Linked DNA regions of Homo sapiens: regions 1, 3 and 4 are each linked to region 2. Evidence: fine-mapped expression QTL. A gene starts in region 2. Each other region holds a variant in brackets. All regions are shown on one strand. Distances are between the middles of the regions. Region 1 overlaps GMEB2 (glucocorticoid modulatory element binding protein 2). Region 2 holds the start of STMN3 (stathmin 3). Region 3 overlaps GMEB2 (glucocorticoid modulatory element binding protein 2). Region 4 overlaps GMEB2 (glucocorticoid modulatory element binding protein 2).

Evidence for each region.
Region 1: its variant is fine-mapped to the expression of STMN3 in whole blood (TOPMed, PIP 0.99).
Region 3: its variant is fine-mapped to the expression of STMN3 in whole blood (TOPMed, PIP above 0.99).
Region 4: its variant is fine-mapped to the expression of STMN3 in whole blood (INTERVAL, PIP above 0.99).

Annotation. Positions count from the first base shown.
Region 1 is chr20:63,595,761-63,600,904 of GRCh38, reverse strand. GMEB2 (glucocorticoid modulatory element binding protein 2) reads left to right here. Exons shown (of 10, transcript NM_012384.5): 5 at 3,045-3,148; 6 at 5,138-5,144. Among named protein-coding and RNA genes, the nearest start is that of HELZ2, 24 kb to the right of the region's middle. RefSeq lists an enhancer at 2,930-3,099. The variant G/A (reference allele first, on the strand shown) is at 2,956.
Region 2 is chr20:63,650,527-63,655,670 of GRCh38, reverse strand. STMN3 (stathmin 3) reads left to right here and starts at 2,247. Exons shown (of 5, transcript NM_015894.4): 1 at 2,247-2,344. The coding sequence starts at 2,326. RefSeq lists enhancers at 909-1,587, 1,588-2,267, 3,544-4,114 and silencers at 2,410-2,459, 2,480-2,569.
Region 3 is chr20:63,585,748-63,590,891 of GRCh38, reverse strand. It overlaps GMEB2 (glucocorticoid modulatory element binding protein 2), which reads left to right. Exons shown (of 10, transcript NM_012384.5): 10 at 163-3,287. The coding sequence ends at 803. Among named protein-coding and RNA genes, the nearest start is that of HELZ2, 14 kb to the right of the region's middle. RefSeq lists enhancers at 395-564, 2,482-2,651, 3,245-3,414 and a cis regulatory region at 3,329. The variant C/T (reference allele first, on the strand shown) is at 2,505.
Region 4 is chr20:63,609,257-63,614,400 of GRCh38, reverse strand. The region is part of intron 2 of GMEB2 (glucocorticoid modulatory element binding protein 2); the gene reads left to right. Among named protein-coding and RNA genes, the nearest start is that of GMEB2, 15 kb to the left of the region's middle. RefSeq lists enhancers at 273-442, 3,739-3,908. The variant C/T (reference allele first, on the strand shown) is at 2,625.

The DNA of each region.
Region 1 (5,144 bases), 55 kb after region 2:
CAGTGAGCAGGTCTGTGGTGTTCTTCCAACAGTTCATAGCCTGACTCTACTCATGAGAAAACAGCAGACACTCATGGAGAGACAGCCTACGTTAATACCTGACCCACAAGCTCCAAAAACGTCAAGGTGAAGAAAAACACAGACAGGCTGAGAAGCTGCTCCGTCTTTTTTTTTTTTTTTTTTTTTTGAGATGGAGTCTTCCTCTGTTGCCCAGACTGGAGTGCAATGGCGCGATCTTGGCTCACCGCAACCTCCGCTTCCTGGGTTCAAGTGATTCTCTTGCCTCAGCCTCCTGAGTAGCTGGGACTACGGGCACCCACCACCATGCCTGGCTGATTTTTGTATTTTTAGTAGAGATGGGGTTTTGCCATGTTGGCCAGGCTGAGCCCGAACTCCTGACCTCAGGTGACCTGCCCGCCTTGGCCTCCCAAAGTGCTGGGATTACAGGCGTGAGCCACCGCGCCCGGCCTGCTGCAGTCTTAATGGGGACAAAAGCCGAAGAGCAAGGCAGCTGCATGCTCCACAGTCTTGGGCTGGATCCTGCATCAGAAAAAAATGTAGGCTGGGCATGGTGACTCACGCCTGTAATCCCAGCACTTTGGGAGGCCGAGGCGGGTGAATCACCTGAGGTCAGGAGTTCGAGACCAGCGCAGCCAACATGGTGAAACCCCATCTCTGCGACAAATACAAAAAAATTGGCCAGGCATGGTGGCATGTGCCTGTACTCCCAGCTACTCGGGAGGCTGAGGCAAGAGAATCTCTTGAACCCGGGAGGCGGAGGTTGCAGTGAGCCCAAGATTGCACCAGTGCACTCCAGCCTGGACGACAGAGTGAGACTCCATCTCAAAAAAAAAAATTTTTTTTTTGCAATAAAGGCTATCATTGGAACAATTCATGAATTTGACTATGGACAATGGATTAGAGAATAATGTATGAATGATAATTTCCTGATGCGAGTTGTTCTGTGGCTGCGTAAGAGAAGCTTGTTCTTAGGAAATATACACAAGTGTTGAGGGCCCAGGGGCCCGACGTCTCTGCTTCACTCTCAGTAGCTGCACGTGCACAGGTCTAGGCGGGGGCAAGGGGGCAGACGGGAGCAGGCAGTGAGTCCGGAACGCACGTGTGAGAGCTCCCTGGACTATCCTGGCAATTACCCTGTGAGTTTGAAATTGTATTAGAATTAGAAGTTGGAAACACGAAAGAAATGTACCATAGGTGACATCATAATGAAATTCCAGAAGGACGGGGACAGAGAAGATCCTCAGTCTAGCCAGGAGGAGAGACGGATCGCTCAGTAGCAAGAATCCCGCCGGCCGTGAGCTCCCGAAAGCAGCGCAGGAGCAGAGGTGGCAGCGCCAGAGCCTCACTGTGTGGCGAGTGACGACACCGTGAGGTCGTCTTTGAAATTATGCTGGAAGAAAGACGTTTCCAGAAAAAGACACGAGTTTGCCACCAGCAGATCATGATGGAAGGATGTTCTAAATATGCATTGCAGGCGGAGATAGGAGGCCTCCAGATGGAAGCGCTGTGCTGTGAGGAGGTGTGAAGAGTCGGGGAAACGTGGGTCACCCGACCAGTCCTGTCTATTCAGCATCGAGAGAGACGCCCTGGAGGGCCTCAGAGATGAGAGCAGGGCCACGTGGCTGTGGTCTGGAGGGTCAGGAGCGGGCCGAGTTAGCTCCGGGGGGTCAGGAGCGGCCACGTTAGCTCCGGGGGGTCAGGAGCGGGCCGCGTTAGCGCTGGAGGGTCAGGAGCGGCTGCGTTAGCTCTGGGGGGTCAGGAGTGGCCGCGTTAGCTCTGGGCTCTGGCAGCTCTGGTAAGCGTGACATGCTGAAGCTCCTGGAGCCACTCATGAGAGTACAGCATGTAGCTTCCTAGCTGGGAGAGGAAAACCTGGGGTGAGAAGAGTAACAAAGGTGAAAGCAAGAAAGGAAAGAGGCAGGCCTAGGAGGGGCAGGGAGGTGAGGCTGGCTGAGCCCAGAGCCCTAGGTAGGATCAGGCCCTTTGGGTGCAGTTGAGTTTCCTAGGTGTGAGCCACGTTGGGTAGAAGTGATGGCCGGAAGCAGCCTCAGTCACAGCCAGTGCAGCCTTCCTGCCAGGCTCCGACAGTGGCCAGAGAATCTTCTGGATTCCACCTTCTGGACTTCTATGGGATCTCCCTGATCAGCCGCATGAGGGAGAGCCAGAGACTGGCTGGGCTTAGTGTTCCCGTCTGTGGCACAGGGGTCATGAGAGGGTGGGCTCAGGGATTGGGAACATCACTTCCTTCAGCAAGCTAGACTTGGGCACGGCCCGGGGGTGGAGGCGGCCCCCGTACTCGGGCCTCCTGGGTCCAGCTGCAGAGACCTCGTGACTCCTCCATCCCCAGCCTGCTTGTTTTCTAAGTAAATGCAGTTTTATTCCAGTTTTTGGTTTCAATAATTGCTTGTGTAACAAGATTGAACAGGATATTTTACCTTCTCAGTTTCTCTGAGCTCCCACATGGGTGAAATTAGCAAGCAGGAGGGTTCCCCTGGCTTAGAAACAGATGAGTGTGTGTGTGTGTGTGTGTGTGTGTGTGTCAGAGTGAGAGCAGGTGCCGGTGTTTGCTGCACGGGGCAAGGTGGTGTCAGGAGGGACCTGAGGAAGGTGGCGTTCACAGCTCCACCCATGTGCTGGCATCTGTTGCCATCTGCGATGTAACGTATGCAATAACGTGTATTTATAAAATACATTGCACAGAAGCAGTTTGCTTAGTCTGCCTGGAGGAAGAGAAGGCCACACACCTTCTACCTGGTGTGGTCAGCCCAGCCCTGTCTAGCCCCAGGCACACAGCAGCTCTGCCCCCTCAGGGCTGGAGGAGACACCACTCCCCACTGCAGCCACCGTGCCTGTGGGTCATGTCCTTGTTTTACCTGAATGCTCTGTAGGAGGCCTGCACCGGTCAGAGCCGTGCCGTGGCGCTTTTCCTGCCTT[G/A]CGCGCCTGACTCAGGGTCGGATGGGAGATGGGGGCACCCTATGTGGTGTCCCGGCCAAGCTTGACCCACATGACTGTGTCCCCCACAGTACGACGAGCATGTAATCAGCCCAAAGGAATTTGTGCACCTGGCCGGGAAGTCCACCCTGAAGGACTGGAAGAGAGCCATCCGCATGAACGGCATCATGCTCAGGTGGGCGCTGGCGCAGGGTCAGCCTCCCTGCTGGAAGGGGCCCTGGCAGCTCTTGCTTTCTTGTGGGGTTTTGGGATTTTGAAGATGAGGCGTATTTTAGATGTGGTGAGTGCTGACAACCTCCCGGGTGGCTGCTGCACCTGCTCACACCCAAAACTGTAAACCCGTCTCCCACACTCCTGCCAACAGGGACACTATCAGATTTTTAGAATTGTTTTGTCAGTCATTTTAATTTCCACCAATTCTTTACCTGAAGGCACTTGTGACTGTTTCAGCGTTGTAAAATAAAGGGTTGGCTGGGCACATGGCTCACACCTGCAATCCCAACACTTTAGGAGGCTGAGGCAGGAGGATCACTTGACGCCAAGAGTTTGAGACCAGCCTGGGCACAATAATGAGACCTCATCTCTACTAAAAATAAAAAAAAAATTATCTGGATTTGGTGACATATGCCTGTGGTCCCAGCTGCTCGAGAGGCTAAGGTGGAAGGATCACTGGAGCCTGGAAGTCAAGGCTGCAGTGAGCTGTGATTGTGCCACTGCAATACAGCTTGGGTTACAGAGTGAGACTCTGTCTCAAAAAAAAAAAAAAACAAGAATAAAAAGGAAAAGAAAAGGGTCTGTTCCAATTATGCATTCTGAAAATAAAAAATAAAAGAAAGGTATAATCTGGTATTTGTGCATCAGATTTTGGCCTTTTATGTTACTCCTTATTTCTGTCCTTTCTTTCACTTTTTTTTTGAGAGGGAGTCTTGCTCTGTTGCCCAGGCTGGAGTGCAGTGGCATGATCTTGGCTCACTGCGAACTCTGCCTCCTGGGTTCAAGCGATTCTCTTCCTCACCCTCCCCAGTAGCTGGGTTTACAGGTGCTCGCCAGCACACCCGGCTAATTTTTGTATTTTTAGTAGAGACGGGATTTTGCCATATTGTCCAGGCTGGTCTCGAACACTTGACCTCAGGTGATTGACCTGCCTCAGCCTCCCAAAGTGCTGGGATTCCAGGCATGAGCCACCGTGCCCGGCCTTCACTTATCTGTGAATCATAAGCCTCAGTCTCAGTCTTTGTGGGCCTGGCCTCTACCTTGCTTCCCAAGGAGGGCCCCTGCTTTGTGCTGGAGTCAGAGTTTGAGACCTCACGAGTGACTAGCCCTGGGTCCTTTCCCATGGCTCAGGTCCTTTCCCTGTCCAGCTGAACTGGCCTCTGATTTTCTGGAACGTGGCTGGTGGCACAGCTGTGGGGACCACCGGCCAGGTAGGCAAGTCCTGAGCTGACCACAGAAGCATTAGCCTGTGTGTGCCTGAGGTCAGTGCTGCCCAAAGATTGAATGAGGCTGGAGCCTCTGACCCTCGTTTCATGGGTCGAGGCAGGCTCGTTGAGACACACAGGACTGAGACCCTGGACCTCCGGAGAGGCAGAAGAGAGGGCCCTGGGAGGGCGGCTCTCAGCAGTTTGGGCCGTACGAAGCCTTCCTGGTAAAGATGAGGATGAGCGGCAGCCATGGCCGTTGGTGCTGTCCTGCGCCCTCATCACTCTTCTTGGCTGTCTCTGTGCCTTTAGAAGGAGGAAGGTTCTCCTGGAAGTGATTTCCCACCTTCCTCTGCTTCAGAATGAGTCACGCATGATGCAGGTGGACTGGGCCCACCTTTGTTAGCTGTGGGTCACTCCCTTGGGGCTGGGGTAGTGGGACATCCCAGAAAGGCCCAGCCCCACAGACTCTGACGGGCACCTCCAGGACACCCACTGGCCAGCGCTTGCCCCCTTCCTGGGGACAGTGCCGTAGCGTGGGCCTGGGCCGGCTGCTTCTTCAGCAGCAGGGTCCTGCACGCCGAGCTCGCGCTAAGAGGGAAGTAGAGCCCACCCTGCCCTGTGGAGCTGCCAGCGCCTCTGCTAGGCCTGCCCCACGCAGGTGGATGGCCCAGGTCAGGGTGGGCGGGCCAGGTGCCTTCGGCTCTGGGGCCGACCTGGACGCTCCATGCCACTGTCTGTCACAGGAAGATC
Region 2 (5,144 bases):
ATGCTGTCATTACTCCTATTGCGTGTGCCTGCCAGTGCACTGAGAGTCAGTACACCTATGGCATGTGCCTGCTAGTGTGCTGTCAGTACAGCTGTTGTGTATGCCTGCTAGCACGCTGACAGTCAGTATGGCTGACAGTCAGTACCCCATTGCGTGTGCCTGCCTAGGTGCTGACAGTCAGTACCCCTGTTGTGTGTTCCTGCTAGTGCACACTGTGCACATCTACTGTGTTCCTGGCACTATGCCACGGGCTTCCACACACCTGGTCCCTGTGCTCCAGATGAGGACACAGAGGCTCAGAGAGGGCCTGGCCAGAGTCACAATGAGTGTGAGGCATTGCGGTGCTCTGAGCCTGACTGGGTGGGTCCTACCCCACCCACATGAGAAGACTCTGGAGGTCCCAGAGAGGGCTACTTCTCTTGATCCCTAGCACCTGAGCTCCAGCACCCGGGGCTGGAGTCTGCCTGAAGGATGCTGACCATCCCCAACTGCTACTGTGGTGGCCAACAGGGAGGACACAGCTGCTGTGGTGGGCAGCTCTGTGTGCCTCTCTGCCCTTCTTCCTCCTTCGCAGAGCTGGCTTCCTAGGAATGGCCCAGGGGCCAACACCTCTGTGTGTATATTAGTTTGATATGGCTTCATAGCAAATCACCACAAAACCAACAGCTTAAAACAACTCTCATTCATTACCTCCTAATTCTTAGTAACCCAAGGCTGAAACCAAGTGGGCAGTTGGGCTCAGTTCTTGTGTGGAGGCCCTGGGGTCAAACCTGCCTCCAAGCCCATTCTCTTCTTGTTGGCAGAACTCACTTCCTTGCAGTTAAGGTCTTGTTGTCTTGCTGGCTGTTGGCTGGGAGCAGTTCTCAGATCCTTGCCACGTGGCCCCCTCATCTCAACAACAGAAAACCTTCTTTGGTTTGATCCCTCCGATTTCTTCAACCAGGCAAAGGAAACTGCTTTTAAAGGGCTCCTGTGATGAGGTCAGGGCCCGCCTGGTGATCCTCCAGTCTTAAGGGTACCTCTGGGCCACACAATGTCACATTCCTGGGCATCACCCCCACCAGACTCACAGTCCCGGGGATGATGCCGGCTTGCACGTCAGGGGTCAGGACTCTCCAGGCCACCCTAGGATGTGACTGGCCTTGGGTGCTCCCACCGCACTGCTAGAGCTGAGGCTTGCCCCTGGCTTTTGTGTTGCTGAGCCAGCCTCATGGCTCTGCAAGTCTCCTGAGGTTTTCAGGGTTTTGCTCCTGGCCCTATGACTTAGTTGCTTGTAGGGCAAAGCACTTTTCTCCCTGCCTCGGTGGCTTCATCCCTGCAATGGCAAAGACGCTCCGTTTGCCTACCAGGCTTTCCCTTTGGGAGTTATGAGGAGAGGGGGAGGCAGGATAGGTTGCCCCCCACTCACTAAGTGCGCACAACCCTGGCACCCCTCCTCTCCATCGTCTGGGGGCATCATTGTTTCATCTTACCCCTGAGAAACAAAGGCCCAGCGAGGTCAGACGCTTGCCCTTGGCCTGGGCCACACAGTGAGTGAAGGTCTGAGCCCAGGCGGGAAACCACCTCTTTCACGGCAAAGCCTTTGTTCTGGCCTCACTCCTCCACTTTCACTCTTCTCCGCTCAGATCCTGCCCATCCCCTGGGCTCACAGGAGATGCCCCTTGGAGGCCTCCAGGCCAGCGCCCACCCCTGTGGCTGTGGCATCCTCTCCGATGGCAGGCACAGACCTGGACCCTGTTGGCGCCAGCCCAGCCTACAGCGGCCTTGGCGGCGAAGAGCTCTGCGGCCCCACCCCATGGGTGGGACCTGCTCCTCCGGCATTGCCCCTGCCCCGCCTGCCCTGGGGAATGGGGGCTCATCTCCACCCCCACCCCACTCTCAGGCCTCACAAAGCCAAGTTGGAGAAGCAGCTGTCCCGCTGTGAGCGGTTGGAGGGTGGGGGGTCTTGTTGCAGTTCGGGTAGCCCCCCTCCTCCGCCCTCTCCCCCTGAGAGCCGCGGCCCCTTCCGCAGCCAGGCGCTTGCTCCTCTCTCTCTTCCTCCCTCCCTTCCTCCCTCCCTCCTTCCCCCGCCCCCGCAGTCTCTCTCTCTCTCTCTCTCCTTCCCCCAACCCTCCCTCCCTCCTCCCCCCGCTCCTTCCCCCAACCCTCTCTCTCTCTCCCTCTGTCTCCCTCCCTCTCTCTCTCCCGCCGCGCCCGCCTCCCGCCCGCCCTCGCTCCCTCCACTCCTCTCCCCTCCCCTCCCCGGCACTGCAGCACCAGCCGTCTGCAGCTCCGGCCGCCACTTGCGCCTCTCCAGCCTCCGCAGGCCCAACCGCCGCCAGCACCATGGCCAGCACCATTTCCGGTAGGCTCCGGGGCCACGGGCTTTGTGGGGCGGCGGGATCTGAGCAGAGGCCTCGTCTGGCCTCGCCTGGGGCAGCGGCCGGCAGCGGACGCCAATTTCCCTTCTCCTACCCTGCGCGTTGCAAGCCTGGGCCCGACCCGCCCGAGGCTGGGGTCTGCGGCGCCGGCGGGGCTGGTGGGGCGCTGGGCTGCGAGGCGCCGCGCCGGGGAGCGCTCGGGACCGGGACGTCGGGCGGGGGCGCCTCGCCCCTGGGGGAGCAGCGTGCCACGCAGGGCGCGACTGCCGCAGGGTGGCTCCCAGACCCGGGCGTGGGCTCGCGACCGGGTGGGCGCGCTCGCGATGTGCGGGCGGGGTCCCTGGGGCGTCCGGCGACCCGAGATCTGGGTCCGCCAGAGCCTTCGTGGGGAGGCGGGGAGAGGGTGGGACCCTCTGCCAAAGCCCCAGCCGGGAACCCGGCGCTCCCCGCGCCAGTGCAGCACAGGGGCTGGAGGGGGCGCTGAAGGAGGGGGGCGGGCCAGACACGGCGGAGCCCGGAGTGAGGGGGACCGCGCCCTCCCCCCACACCGCTGCGGCCTCGGGGACCACCCTTTGCGACGCCCGCGCCACCTGCTCTGGCCAGAAAAGCCACTGCCCTTTGCGCCGCGGGGTCTGGATGGGGGAGGGGCGACTGCGATCCCCAAACCCTCCGGAGACCAGAGGGCTCCGCCCCTCCCGCCCCTCCACCTCCCGCGGGGCGGACCCACCGCCTTCGAAGGTAGCGCCCACCCCGGCCTCCCGGCCCGTCCCGCGCGGAGCTCAGGCGGAGGGGCGGGCGCAGGCCCGGGCGGGGGGCGGATTCTGGACGCAGGGGAGCTGCCGGGCGACCTCGGGCGCGAGGACGCTGGGCCCGCCCTTCCCGAAACGCTCTGCTCCGCCGCGAGGCCGCAGAACCCGCTTCGTTTTTCACTCGACGTTTGGGAGGACAGGACGAAGGGCCGCACCTCCTTCCCATCGCCGCCCCCGTTCACGAGCCGCACTCCCTCCCACCTTTTCTTACGCCCCCGGGACAGGTCGCCGCGGTCCCTCTCCCGAGCTGACTGGTTCAACTCGGGCGCCTTGGCCCGGGGCGCAGAACTCCGCCCACCCACGCGTGCCCGACCTGACCCCGCCCCTCAGGCCCCACGGGCTTGGAGGCTCCAGGTGACTTCAGCACCTGCCAGGAGGGGACCGTGTGTGTCACCGGCCACACCTCCCCACCCTATCTGGGAGTCCTGTCCATCTGCGCTTCCTCCCTCCGCCTCCTCCTGGACACCCCCGGGGATACTGGGGGTGGGGGGGCTCTCAGCGGAGGGGACTCCCCTCCTGCCCCTGAGGGCAGCGCCGTCCTCTCCAGGGCCGCCTCCTGCCCTTCCTGACAGCCTTTCCCTGACGGTCCCTCCCCATGGGCTCGGTTCCTGGGGCTGAGCTGGGAGGGCGAGGGCATCTCGGCATCTGGGCACTGGCTCCTCGCTCTTTTGTGGCCTCTGCTCACATTCTCCTTCTGCAACCCAGAGTCTGACCTCCTCCAGCTGTGTGGTGTTGTCCGAGCTGCCTAACCTCTCAGGACCTGGGTCTCCTTATCTGGGTAGAGATGACGGTGCTGGCACCTCTCCTGGGGCTTGTTCTGAGGCCTCAATATTTCAGGAAAGGTGCTTGGCCGCTTGCCTGCTAAGAGATGAGTGCTCACCGCACGTCAAGCAGCCTGACTGTGGTAGCCACATTTCTGAGTTTCCTGCCCAGGGAAAGGCAAATCGGCTGGTGGCTCCTGCCATGCTGTGCTCCTGGCACCATGAGAAGCAGCCTGGGTGACAGTGACCTCCATCTGCCCCCGGGGGGAGCCGGCAGCAGCCTCCAGGGCCCTCCAGGGGTCAGAGGCCACTGTGGTCCCCTGGCCTCTCAGTTCTGGACAGATCCCCCACCTCCGCGAGCTCCCAACAGGAGCCTGCAGTCAGGCCCAGGCTCATGACTGGGCTCTCACCCGGCACTCTGTGTGATGCTGGGTGGAATGCTTGCCCTCTCTGAGCCTTCATTCCTCCTCTGTAGAAGTGAGGCAGATAGGGTGGCTCATGCCTGTAATCCCAGCACTTTGAGAGGCTGAGGCCGGTGGATAAACTGAGGTCAAGAGTTCGAGACTAGCCTGGCCAACATGGTGAAATCCCCCCTCTCTGCTAAAAGTACAAAATTAGCCAGGTGTGGTGACACACTCCTGTGATCCCAGCAATCTGGGAGACTGAGGCAGGATAATTGCTTGACCCGGGGAGAGGGAGGTTGCAGTGAGCTGAGATTGTGCCATTGCACTCCAGCCTGGGCAGCAAGAGTAGAAACTCTTTCTAAAAAAAAAAAAAAAGAAGAAAGAAGAGGAGGAAGACGAAGAAGACGAAAGAGAAGGAGAAGGAGAGCTGATAAGGGCATCCACCCGGGTGGGCGGGAGGGGTGGGTGTGAGGTGTGACCCTGGGAGTGGGCACCATCCACCTGGGCGGCGGGAGGGGTGGGCGTGAGGTGTGACCCTGGGAGTGGGCACCATCCACCTGGACGGCGGGAGGGGTGGGCGTGAGGTGTGACCCTGGGAGCGGGCACCATCCACCCGGGCGGGCGGGAGGGGTGGGCGTGAGGTGTGACCCTGGGAGCGGGCACCATCCACCCGGGTGGGCGTCAGGTGTGACCCTGGGAGCGGGCACCATCCACCCGGGTGGGTGGGAGGGGCGGGCGTGAGGTGTGACCCTGGGAGTGGGCACCATCCACCTGGGCGACGGGAGGGGTGGGCGTGAGGTGTGACCCTGG
Region 3 (5,144 bases), 65 kb after region 2:
GGCGGCCATGTGGTCATCTGGGTTTGTGGCATCAGGTGAGCAGACCTGGGTTGCCACTGACCCAGGGGCCACCCAGATGGTGTGGCGTGTCTGCCCCCATCCCCTGCATGCCGCCATCCATGCCCCCGTCCCCTGTGTGATGCCATCTGTACCTCCCTGCAGCCCTGGAGCAGCAGTGTGATGAGCATCGTCGCCGAGCCAAGGAGCTGAAGCACAAGTCCCAGCACCTCAGCAACGTGCTCATGACGCTGACGCCGGTCTCCCTGCCACCGCCTGTGAAGCGGCCCCGGCTTGCACGTGCCACATCAGGACCGGCCGCCATGGCCTCGCAGGTGCTCACCCAGTCTGCCCAGCTGGCGCTTGGCCCGGGCGTGCCCGTCCCCCAGCTGACCAGCGTGCCCCTTGGTAAAGTGGTGTCCACCCTGCCGTCCACCGTCCTGGGCAAGGGTTCCCTTCAGGCGCCCCCCGCCAGCTCCCCGGCCTCCCCGCTGCTCGGGGGATACACAGTCTTGGCCTCTTCCGGCTCCACCTACCCCAGCACAGTGGAGATCCACCCGGACGCGTCCAGCCTCACGGTCCTGAGCACGGCCGCCGTGCAGGACGGTAGCACGGTGTTCAAGGTGGTCAGCCCGCTACAGCTGCTCACGTTGCCTGGCCTGGGCCCCACCCTGCAGAACGTGGCCCAGGCCTCGCCTGGCTCCAGCACAATTGTGACAGTGCCCGCAGGGGCTGCCCCCGGGCCTGAGGAGCACACGGCCACCATTGAGGTGGCTGCCATGGCAGAGGACCACGAGCGGAAGTAGCCGACAGGAGGGCGAGGCCCCTGGGACGGACAGGGCTGGCTGTCTCTCAGCCGCGGCAGCAGGGAGCGGGCAGAGGCCGCAGGGCTGGCTCGGGCAGGTGGGTCACGTGGTCTGCAGAACCAAAGAGAGGAATCGCCAAAACAAATCACGAGAAGAGAGAAGGGGACAGAACAGCGAGAGCAACCTGGAAAATCGGTCTTCAGGTCCCACGTTTCCTCCCCCTTTTTTCTTGGGAAATATATTTTTCCATCTGTTGCTTATTAATACTGTTTACACATTGGGCCTTGATCAGGAGCCAGGTGGGCGGGGGCTAGGGGGAGCCTGGGTGCAGCAGAGACAGAGGAAGCAGAGCCAGGTGCCGAGCGCGACCCTGCAGGTGCTGGACGCGGTGCAGCAGGTCACGAGGCCCCCATGTCTGCACCCAGCCAGGTCCCTGGGGACGTTACTAACTCATGACTTGGGAGCTAAGCCCAAGTGTGAAACCTCTGGATCCTATGGATTTGGTTTCTTCCCACAGTTTTCTGTAGGTTTAGTGTGGCTGGCGCCCCGTTCTCCTCCAGTTGGGAACATGCACCCGGAGCTTGGGGTGCAGATCCTGATGGGTGCCTGCCTCCCCCGCCCCCAGCCGGTGCTCAGGTGGCCCAGGGGCCGCACAGACGAGGCGTGGTCCAGGCATTGTTGCACATGTACTGAGGGTGTTTTTAAGTGAATTGCTTAGTAGGCTTCTAGGAAGAGTCAGATTTATAGCATTTTCAACCAAAATAATGGTGAGTGCCTAGGCTTCCCGAGTTAGCTCTTTGGGTGGCCCCTGAGCCCCTGTGAGTGCACTTGACCGGGTGCGGAGGTCCTGGGCAGCCTGTCCCTGAGCCGGCCCCTCCCAGGGGTCTGAGATCCATGAGGTGTGTCCCTAGGGCTTCAGTCCTGGGGCAGAGGCATAAACAGAACCAGTCACTATGGAGGTCGAGGATTCCCATGTGGGCCCTTCAGCTTGGGCTGCTTGGCCACGGAACAGCCCTTGGCTCCCTGGCCCCCGGCCCCCATGCAGCCCCTGGGCTGGCCCTTGGTGGTCTCTGTCCAAGGGAGAGCCCCTGGGTGTTCAGGAGGCTGCCCCGGGTGGGCTGCTCAGGGCAGCTGCCGAAGGTGGAGCCCAGAGCCTGTCTGGAAGGGCTGTCTGTGGCTGTCCTGAGACCTGGCCTTGGACTCACAAGGAAGACCAGGCTGAGGCCCCTCCAGGCCAGGGTCCTGGGGCAGGCATCTCAGGGAGCAGCCAGCCCAGGCCTCCTGCCGTCTCCAACAGGGCATGTCCCGGGAGGACCCTGAGTGCCAGATTCCCCTGGACGCTCCTGCTGATTCTGTCGGCAGTTGAAGGCCCGTCTGAGGCCCCGCAATGCGAGGGTCCTGTGTCCCACTTCACTGCTCCGAAGGGAACTGGCTGGCTGTCCGTCCAGTGAGCGGCCCAGACCCCACCTCTGCGCCATTGTCACCAGGGCCCTGTCCTGGCTGCCCTCACCCATGTCAAGCTACTGAGGCTGTGTCTTGTTTGTTTTCTCTGTTACATTTTTGTTTGCTGTTGTCACAGTCAGCTGGTTTCGGCGTGATGTTGATCTTTTGATGTACATACTCCGTTTTAAACTCATTTCCACTCTAGTTGAGTTCTGCAGCATGCAGCGGTATGACCCTACGGGGGTCAGGAGAGCCCTG[C/T]GGCCCCCACCCACCAGCTCAGAACCTGTCACTAATACAGCTGCCTGTGACCCTGGGACCCGCAACCTTCCAGCTGCTTCCCTTTGTCAAAGTCACGAGTGCGTCTGCCTTGACAGCCCTCGTCAACAGAACTTCCAGTGGGTTGTGGGTTCATTTCCTTTCTTTTTAAGAACAGGGTTGGGACCTTTTCTGCCCCTGCCCCTTAGCTACTGAGGCATAGGGAGAGGAAGTTAATTTCAGAGCCATACAAAAATAAGCCACAACCAGCTTCAGAATTAATTCCCAATCCCCCATTCCACCAGGGCTGGGAGCCCATTCCCAGTGCTTCCCAAGGCCCTCGGGGACATCTACCGCCAACCCAGCTGCTTCTGGCAGGGGCTCCAAGCCCCAGCGTGGGGAAGGGCCCTGGAGAAGCCCTCATCCTCATGGGAACCACACTGCAGTGGGTGGGGAAGGTTGTTGTCAGCACCGCCCCCGGCTCCTCCAGGTCCTGCTGGCTCCTCGGGGGCAGGGTTCCCTGGACCTCCCAGTTCTGCGCCTTGGGGCCAGCCAGTACTCAGAGAGGAGGACCTTCTCAACCACGTACAGAACACGGGTTTTCATGGCTGCCTTTGGTTTGGTTTTCTGAGAAGATAGGATTGGATTGGATTTTGCAGAGGGTGAGAACTTCTCTGTGCCTGCTCAGAGGCGCCCTAGGGAAGGGCCATGTTTGAGTTTTGCTTTGTATGTTGTTTTGCAAGTATCTGCCTGGTACTTTGATTTAAAATAAAAACAATTTTCATAGTTTGAGTGTCTATCTCTTGGAATGAAGTGTGGAGAGAAATCAAGTCTATAAACACGCCCAACGCAAACAGCGCTGGCTGCCACCCCCGCCCCGGACCACTCACACCCACATGCTTCGTTCTTCCAAGTGTGGCCTGGGGGCTTCAGGACCCTTCCAGGGTGTCCCGAGGTCAAAGCTGTTTTCATCACAGCAGGTGCCCTGTGCCCTTGTCCTTCTCTCCCCAGCACGCATCGGAGTTTTCAAGAGGCCTGGTGGGAGGATCATGGCCGTTTTAGTCGTTAGTGCTACTGTAACAAAATACCGCAGGCTGGGGGGCTTGCAAGCAACAGAGGTTCATTTATGCAGTTCTGCACGCTGGCAAGTCGGAGATCAAGAGCATCAGCCGATTTGGTGCCTGGTGAGGGTTTTGAATCAGCCGATTCGGTAACTCGTGAGGGTTTTGAAGGTGTCCTGCAAATCGCTGGAGGACAATAGTAAGAACAGCCTGGGCCCCACCTTGACCCGAGGCTGGCGTCGGAGGCACCGCCGCTCACAGGTAAGGAGACCTCTCAGTGGCACAGGGGCCTGCGCCCGCCAGTCAGGAGCTCAACAGACTCACGCCCAGGGGGGCCCCTTCCTCCCCTCTCCCAGGTTCAGTCCCAGAGCCTTCTCGTCACCAACGCTGTTCCCCTCCCTGCTGCCATGGTCCACCCAAGGCCATAGGAGCCTGCACACCAGCCACAGGCCAGCCTCCCAGACTCACGGCCCAGCAAGAGGCAGACATAGAAGTCCACGCTGTGTGGTCACTGGGTGTGGTGGCTCCCGCCTGTCATCCTAGCACTTTGGGAGGCTGAGGCGGGTGGATCACCTGAGGTCAGGAGCTTGAGACCAGCCTGGCCAACATGGTGAAACCCCATCTCTACTAAAAATACAAAATTAGCTGGGCGTGGTGGCAGGTGCCTGTAATCCCAGCTACTCGGGAGACTGAGGCAGGAGAATCGCTTGAACCTGGGAGGCAGAGGTTGCAGTGAGCCGAGATTGCACCACTGCACTTCAGCCTGGGCGACCAGAGTGAAATTCTGTCTCAAAAAAAAAAAAAGTCCATGCCGCGTGGTTCCACTTAGGAAAGTTGGACACGTCCCTCAAGGCAGAATGGCATCGAAAGCCGGGTCACTGGGTGCCCTCCGGGACGGTGGCTGGAGGGGCACAGGGCGCTGGTTCCAAGAGTCCACTCTGAAACCTGCCCTTCTGCCATGGCTGCTCTTCCACGCTTGTGCCCTGCTGCAGCCCAGAGCTGATAAACGCACAGGCATGTCCTTCCAGCACACATTGGCACGGGACCACCCTCCCCACAGGTCATCTGTCAGCTCCTCAGATTCCATGTGTACAAGACAGAGCTCCTGCTTCATATTCCCTCCCATGCTCTGTCCCCATCGTGCCCCGTCGGGGAGGGGAGCACCAACACCTGCCCACAGGCTCAGCCCACCTTCCTGCAACCTCACATCCACGATGCATCCCCTTCTTGTGAGGCCAGGCCCCCTCCATCTCTCTCAGGTCGATGTAACTACCCGGTTCCCACCTCTGGCCCTTCCTACCCTCCTGCTACCCTTCCGGCTGTGACCCTTCCCATTTGCTGACACGTCCTGAGCACCCCCATCATTCCCTCTGCCCCTGGAGGGGGCTGCACCCCTCAGTATCCCACCATGATATCTCCTCCTCCTGATACTTCATGGGGTTTCAGAGGCCACAAGATACAAACCTACAAGGGGTCATGTCTTGTACCCACTGAGTGTCCCCAGGAGCCGGTGCAGCACTGGCCACTCCTCAGCTGAGGACACAGGAGTGGGGAGTGGGCTGTGGCCTGTCCAGCCCAGGGC
Region 4 (5,144 bases), 41 kb after region 2:
GCCCTCTGGTGGCCCTGTCCAGGCATAACAGAAGGCTCGCACTCTTGTCTTCTGGTCAGTTCTCACTATGTCCCCTCAGCTCCTATCTCTGTATGGCCTAGTTTTTCCTAGGTTATGATTTCCTAGTTTTTCCTAGGTTATGCTTAGGCAAGGATTATTATAATATTGGAATAAAGAGTAATTGCTACAAACTAATGATGAATGATATTCATATATAATCATATTTATGATCTATATCTAGTATAACTATTCTTATTTTATGCATTTTATTACACCGGAACAGCTCGTGCCCTCGGTCTCTTGCCTCGGCACCTAGGTGGCTTGCCGCCCATACCAGGGTCCATCTGATGGAGTGGGTGTTGCCCAGTCTGACAAATGCAGGGCGGCCTTCACATCCTAGGGGGTCTCTTTACCCTGCCCTGCTCTGCACTCTTCCCTCCCCCTCCTGTCCAGACCACCCACATGCTAGACTCTCACACCCAAGAGAAGTCTCACGAACATGTCGCAGGAGCATCAAGGACACTGGAGTTACCCATTTGAAATGTGGAGAGTTCAACATTAAGTACATTTTTATTGATAAACAAAAATGGGCCAGGCGCAGTGGCTCACACCTGTAATCCCAGCACTTTGGGAGGCCAGGGTGGGTGGATCACTTGTCAGGAATTTGAGACCAGTCTGGCCAACATGGTGAAACCCCGTCTCTACTAAAAGTACAAAAATTAGCCAGGCGTGGTGGCGGGCGCCTGTAATCCAGTTGGGAGGCTGCAGCAGGAGAATTGCTTGAACCAGGGAGATGGAGGTTACAGTGAGCCGAGATTGTGCCACTGCACTCCAGCCTGGGTGACAGAGCGAGACTCAGTCTCAAAAAAAAAAAAAAAAGAAAACAAAAATGTTGTAGTAATAAAATCCTGCACAGTTGTCTTCGTACACAGTTGTGGCTTAGAGCTCTCCTCTGTGGGTGTCTTGCCGGCTGGTGGCAGTGACGGACCAGGGCAGTGGCAGACACAGGCGCACGGCTGGCGCAGTGCCCTGGAGGCTGGTGTCCCACTTGCTGTCTTGGTTTCCTGTGGTCACTGTGGAAGGTGGCTCCTGTAGGTTAGCTTTGCTTTATGAACACTGAGTAGGAGCTTTTTTTCTAGGATGTTAAAAGAATTTGCTCACATCTTATGCTTGAGTTAACTCTTTGAAGAACAGTGAGAAGTAGAGAGGAAATAATTGCCAAGTTCTCTTGCTTGCTCTGTTTATGATTGTGTCAGTTTTCTTTTGCTGTTTAAGAAAACACCCAATGGCAGGCACCTGTAGTCCCAGTTACTCAGGAGGCTGAGGCAGGGGAATGGCGTGAATCCGGGGGGCAGAGCTTGCAGTGAGCCAAGATTGCGCCACTGCACTCCAGCCTGGGCAACAGAGTGAGACTGCGTCTCCGAAAAAAAAAAAGAAAAAGAAAGAAAGAAACCATCCAAAACTTAGTGGCTTAAGACAAGACATAGTTGTTATTATTTTTAATTCTGTTGGTTGGTTCGTGGTTCTGCTGGTCTGGGCCGGCCTCACCAACCCCTGTCGTCAGCTGACAGCTTGGCAAGGACCTGCTGGTCTGGGTGGCCTTGGCCACAGGGGTCTCTGGAGGGAGGCAGTCTGAGGCACAGGTAGGCTCGGCTGGGTGGCTCTCCTCTGCTTTGCCCGGTCTGTGATCCTCCACCTGGAGGCCTGGACTTCTTTGCCCCGTAAGCCCACAGTTGCAGAGGAAAGTGGGCCTCCTGCTCACTTCTGTTGCCTTGATTGACGCAAGCGACATCACCAAGTGCTGGTTCAAGGGCAGAGCTAAGACTGCCTCTTGGTAGGAAGTTACAAAACGTTGAGATCATTTCTGTGGCCACAGAATGACATTTCCATTCGTCCGCCTCCCGCCTTTTCCTGGGCCTTCCCAGCTCACCCCTTGTGGCCACGTCGGGTCTGGGTGTGGCTGGGGCTTCTTGGTTATGGCACGTCTTGATCCAGAGACTGGTGAACTAAAACCTAGCGACTTCCCCTCCCCTACTGAGCGTGCGGTGGCAGACAAGACAGGACGGGCTCCAGGGCAGGTGGCTTGTTCGAAGGCACCTCACTGATCCAAGATGGGGCAGGGTGGCCCTTTGGCCAGATGCGGCCAGAAAGCTTTCTAAGGTGTGAGGGAAGAGTGACAACCATAGCCCAGGTTGGTCTTTATTCTGAGACCATCTCTTTTTTAAATTTTCTATTTTTTATATTTTTTCCTTTCTTAGATTTCTGTGGGTCAGAACCATTTTTTACCTTGACAGAGTCTTTTGCCAGTGGAGAAACTGGAGACATGAAATGATTTTTTGTTTTTCGAAACAGAGTCTCGTTCTGTTGCACAGACTGGAGTGCAGTGGCACAGTCACGGCTCATGGCAGCCGTGACCTCCTGGGTTCAAGGAATCGTCCTGCCTCAGCCTCCTGAGTAGCTGGGACTCTACAGGCATGTGCCACCATGCCCGGCCCCGTGTAGATTTTTAGTACAGTGCTGGGACTGCAGGCATGTGCCACCACGCCTGGCTAATGGGCTCTCACTGTGTTGCCCAAGCTAGTCTTGAACTCCTGGACTCAAGCAGTCCTCCCACCTCAGCCTCC[C/T]GAAGCACTGGGGTTACAGGCTTGAGCCACCATGTCTGGCCGATGCAAAACAATTTGATCCCCTGGGGATTCCTTGTTTGGAGAAGAACCTTCTAGCTCCACTGTGTCTGGAATGTTCCTTGCGAGATCACACTAGTCAGATGTGTTTCCTTTTTTTTTTTTGAGACCAAGTCTCACTCCGTCACACAGGCTGGAGTGCAGTGGCATGATCTCAGCTCACTGCAGCAGCCTCCACCTCCCGGGTTCAAGTAAATCTCTTGCCTCAGCCTCCTGAATAGCAGGGATTACAGGCACCCGCCACCACGCCTGCCTAAATTTTGTATTTTTCGTAGAGACAGGGTTTCACCATATTGGCCAGGCTGGTCTTGAACTCCTGACCTCAAGTGATCCACCACCTTGGCCTCCCAAAGTGCTGGGATTATAGGCATGAGCCACCACGCCCAGCCTGTTTCTTCTCTTTTAAATTGCTGTGGCATAAGGTCCTGCCAAGGTTTCCTCTGCCTCATGGCACAGTGGCCCCTTCCACACACAAGAGCCGGGTCTGGGATGGCATTTGTGCCCTTAGCCTGTGCCCTCTCCCCACGCAGAGGCGGTGCTGTGTGTCCCAGGCTGGGGACAGCAGTGCTTGTTTCTGGCAGTTTCTGAATTAGCCATGCTTGCAGCCTAACAAACCACCGCAGAGCTTGGTGGCTTAAAGCAGCAGACACTGGTCATTTCTTAAGGTTTTCGGGCCTGGGCTGGTGCTGCTGGGCCTCGCCGGGGGGTCCAGGCTGGGCTCACTTGCATATCCGGGCATTGGTGGGCTGGCCGAGGCTCTGCATGTGGTCCTCATCTGCCAGGACACCTGCCTGGGTGTGCTTAGCAGGAGGAGAGCCAGAGTCCTCGTAGGGCCTCGTCACAGCCTCTTGGTCAAAGCTCTTCAAAGCTTGGCCCAAAGTCAAGTGGAGGGGGTGGGAAATAGCCCCCTGTCTTGATGGAGGGAGCCATGAAGGACCAGAGGGCATTTTTCAGTCTGCAGTTGCTTTGCCAGGACGCCAAGGCTCTGCCCTCGCGGGACAGTGGCTTATGGAGCAGTGGAGAGTCTGCATGCGCCTTCTTCTCTGAGAAGAGAACCCCACGTGGCAGCTGAGGCAGGGCTGTCTTGAAGGACTTAAAGATCCTCTTCTTTTTTGTGGGGAATTAAATCTGTTCTTCTACCATCTGGAAATTGAGACTTCCTCTTGCTACATGTTTTTTTTGTTTTGTTTTCTTTTTTTGAGACAGATTCTCACTCTGTCGCCCAGACTGGAGTGCAATGGCGCGATCTCGGCTCACTGTAACCTCCACCTCCCGGGTTCACGCCATTCTCTTGCCTCAGCCTCCTGAGTAGCTGGGCCTACAGGCGCCCGCCACCACGCCCGGCTAATTTTTTGTATTTTTAGTAGAGACGGGGTTTCACCGTGTTAGCCAGGATGGTCTCGATCTCCTGACCTTGTGATCCGCCTGCCTCGGCCTCCCAAAGTGCTGGGATTACAGGTGTGAGCCACCGTGCCCGGCTGGTGTGCGTGTGTTTTTAAGCAAACTTCTGGAAGTTTAGAAGTGCACACATCATACAGTTGGCTGTTATGAGGTGCACAGCTGGGAACCCCACCCAGACCTCTCCCAGCTTCTCCACATCATCTCCCCAGAGGCAGCTGCCCGCACGGGTTCCAGAAACTGGAGACTTGTTCCCTGTTTCAGACAACCCTCATGCCAGTGTGGGAACACCATGTCTGCAGGATTAATTTCTAGAAATGGAGGTGGAGTCAGAGGGGCATGTTTCTAGAAATGGAGGTGGGGTCAGAGGGGCATGTTTCTAGAAATGGAGGTGGGGTCAGAGGGGCATGTTTCTAGAAATGGATGTGTGGGTCAGAGGGGCATGTTTCTAGAAATGGAGGTGAGGTCAGAGGGGCATGTTTCTAGAAATGGAGGTGTGGGTCAGAGGGGCATGTTTCTAGAAATGGAGGTGGGGTCAGAGGGGCATGTTTCTAGAAATGGAGGTGGGGTCAGAGGGACATGTTTCTAGAAATGGAGGTGTGGGTCAGAGGGGCATGTTTCTAGAAATGGAGGTGGGTCAGAGGGGCATGTTTCTAGAAATGGAGGTGGGTCAGAGGGGCATGTTTCTAGAAATGGATGTGGGGTGAGAGGGGCATGTTTCTAGAAATGGAGGTGGGTCAGAGGGGCATGTTTCTAGAAATGGAGGTGAGGTCAGAGGGGCATGTTTCTAGAAATGGAGGTGGGGTCAGAGGGGCATGTTTCTAGAAATGGATGTGGGGTCAGAGGGACATGTTTCTAGAAATGGATGTGGGGTGAGAGGGGCATGTTTCTAGAAATGGAGGTGGGGTCAGAGGGGCATGTTTCTAGAAATGGAGGTGAGGTCAGAGGGGCATGTTTCTAGAAATGGATGTGTGGGGTCAGAGTGGCATGTTTCTAGAAATGGAGGTGAGTCAGAGGGACATGTTTCTAGAAATGGATGTGTGGGGTCAGAGGGGCATGTTTCTG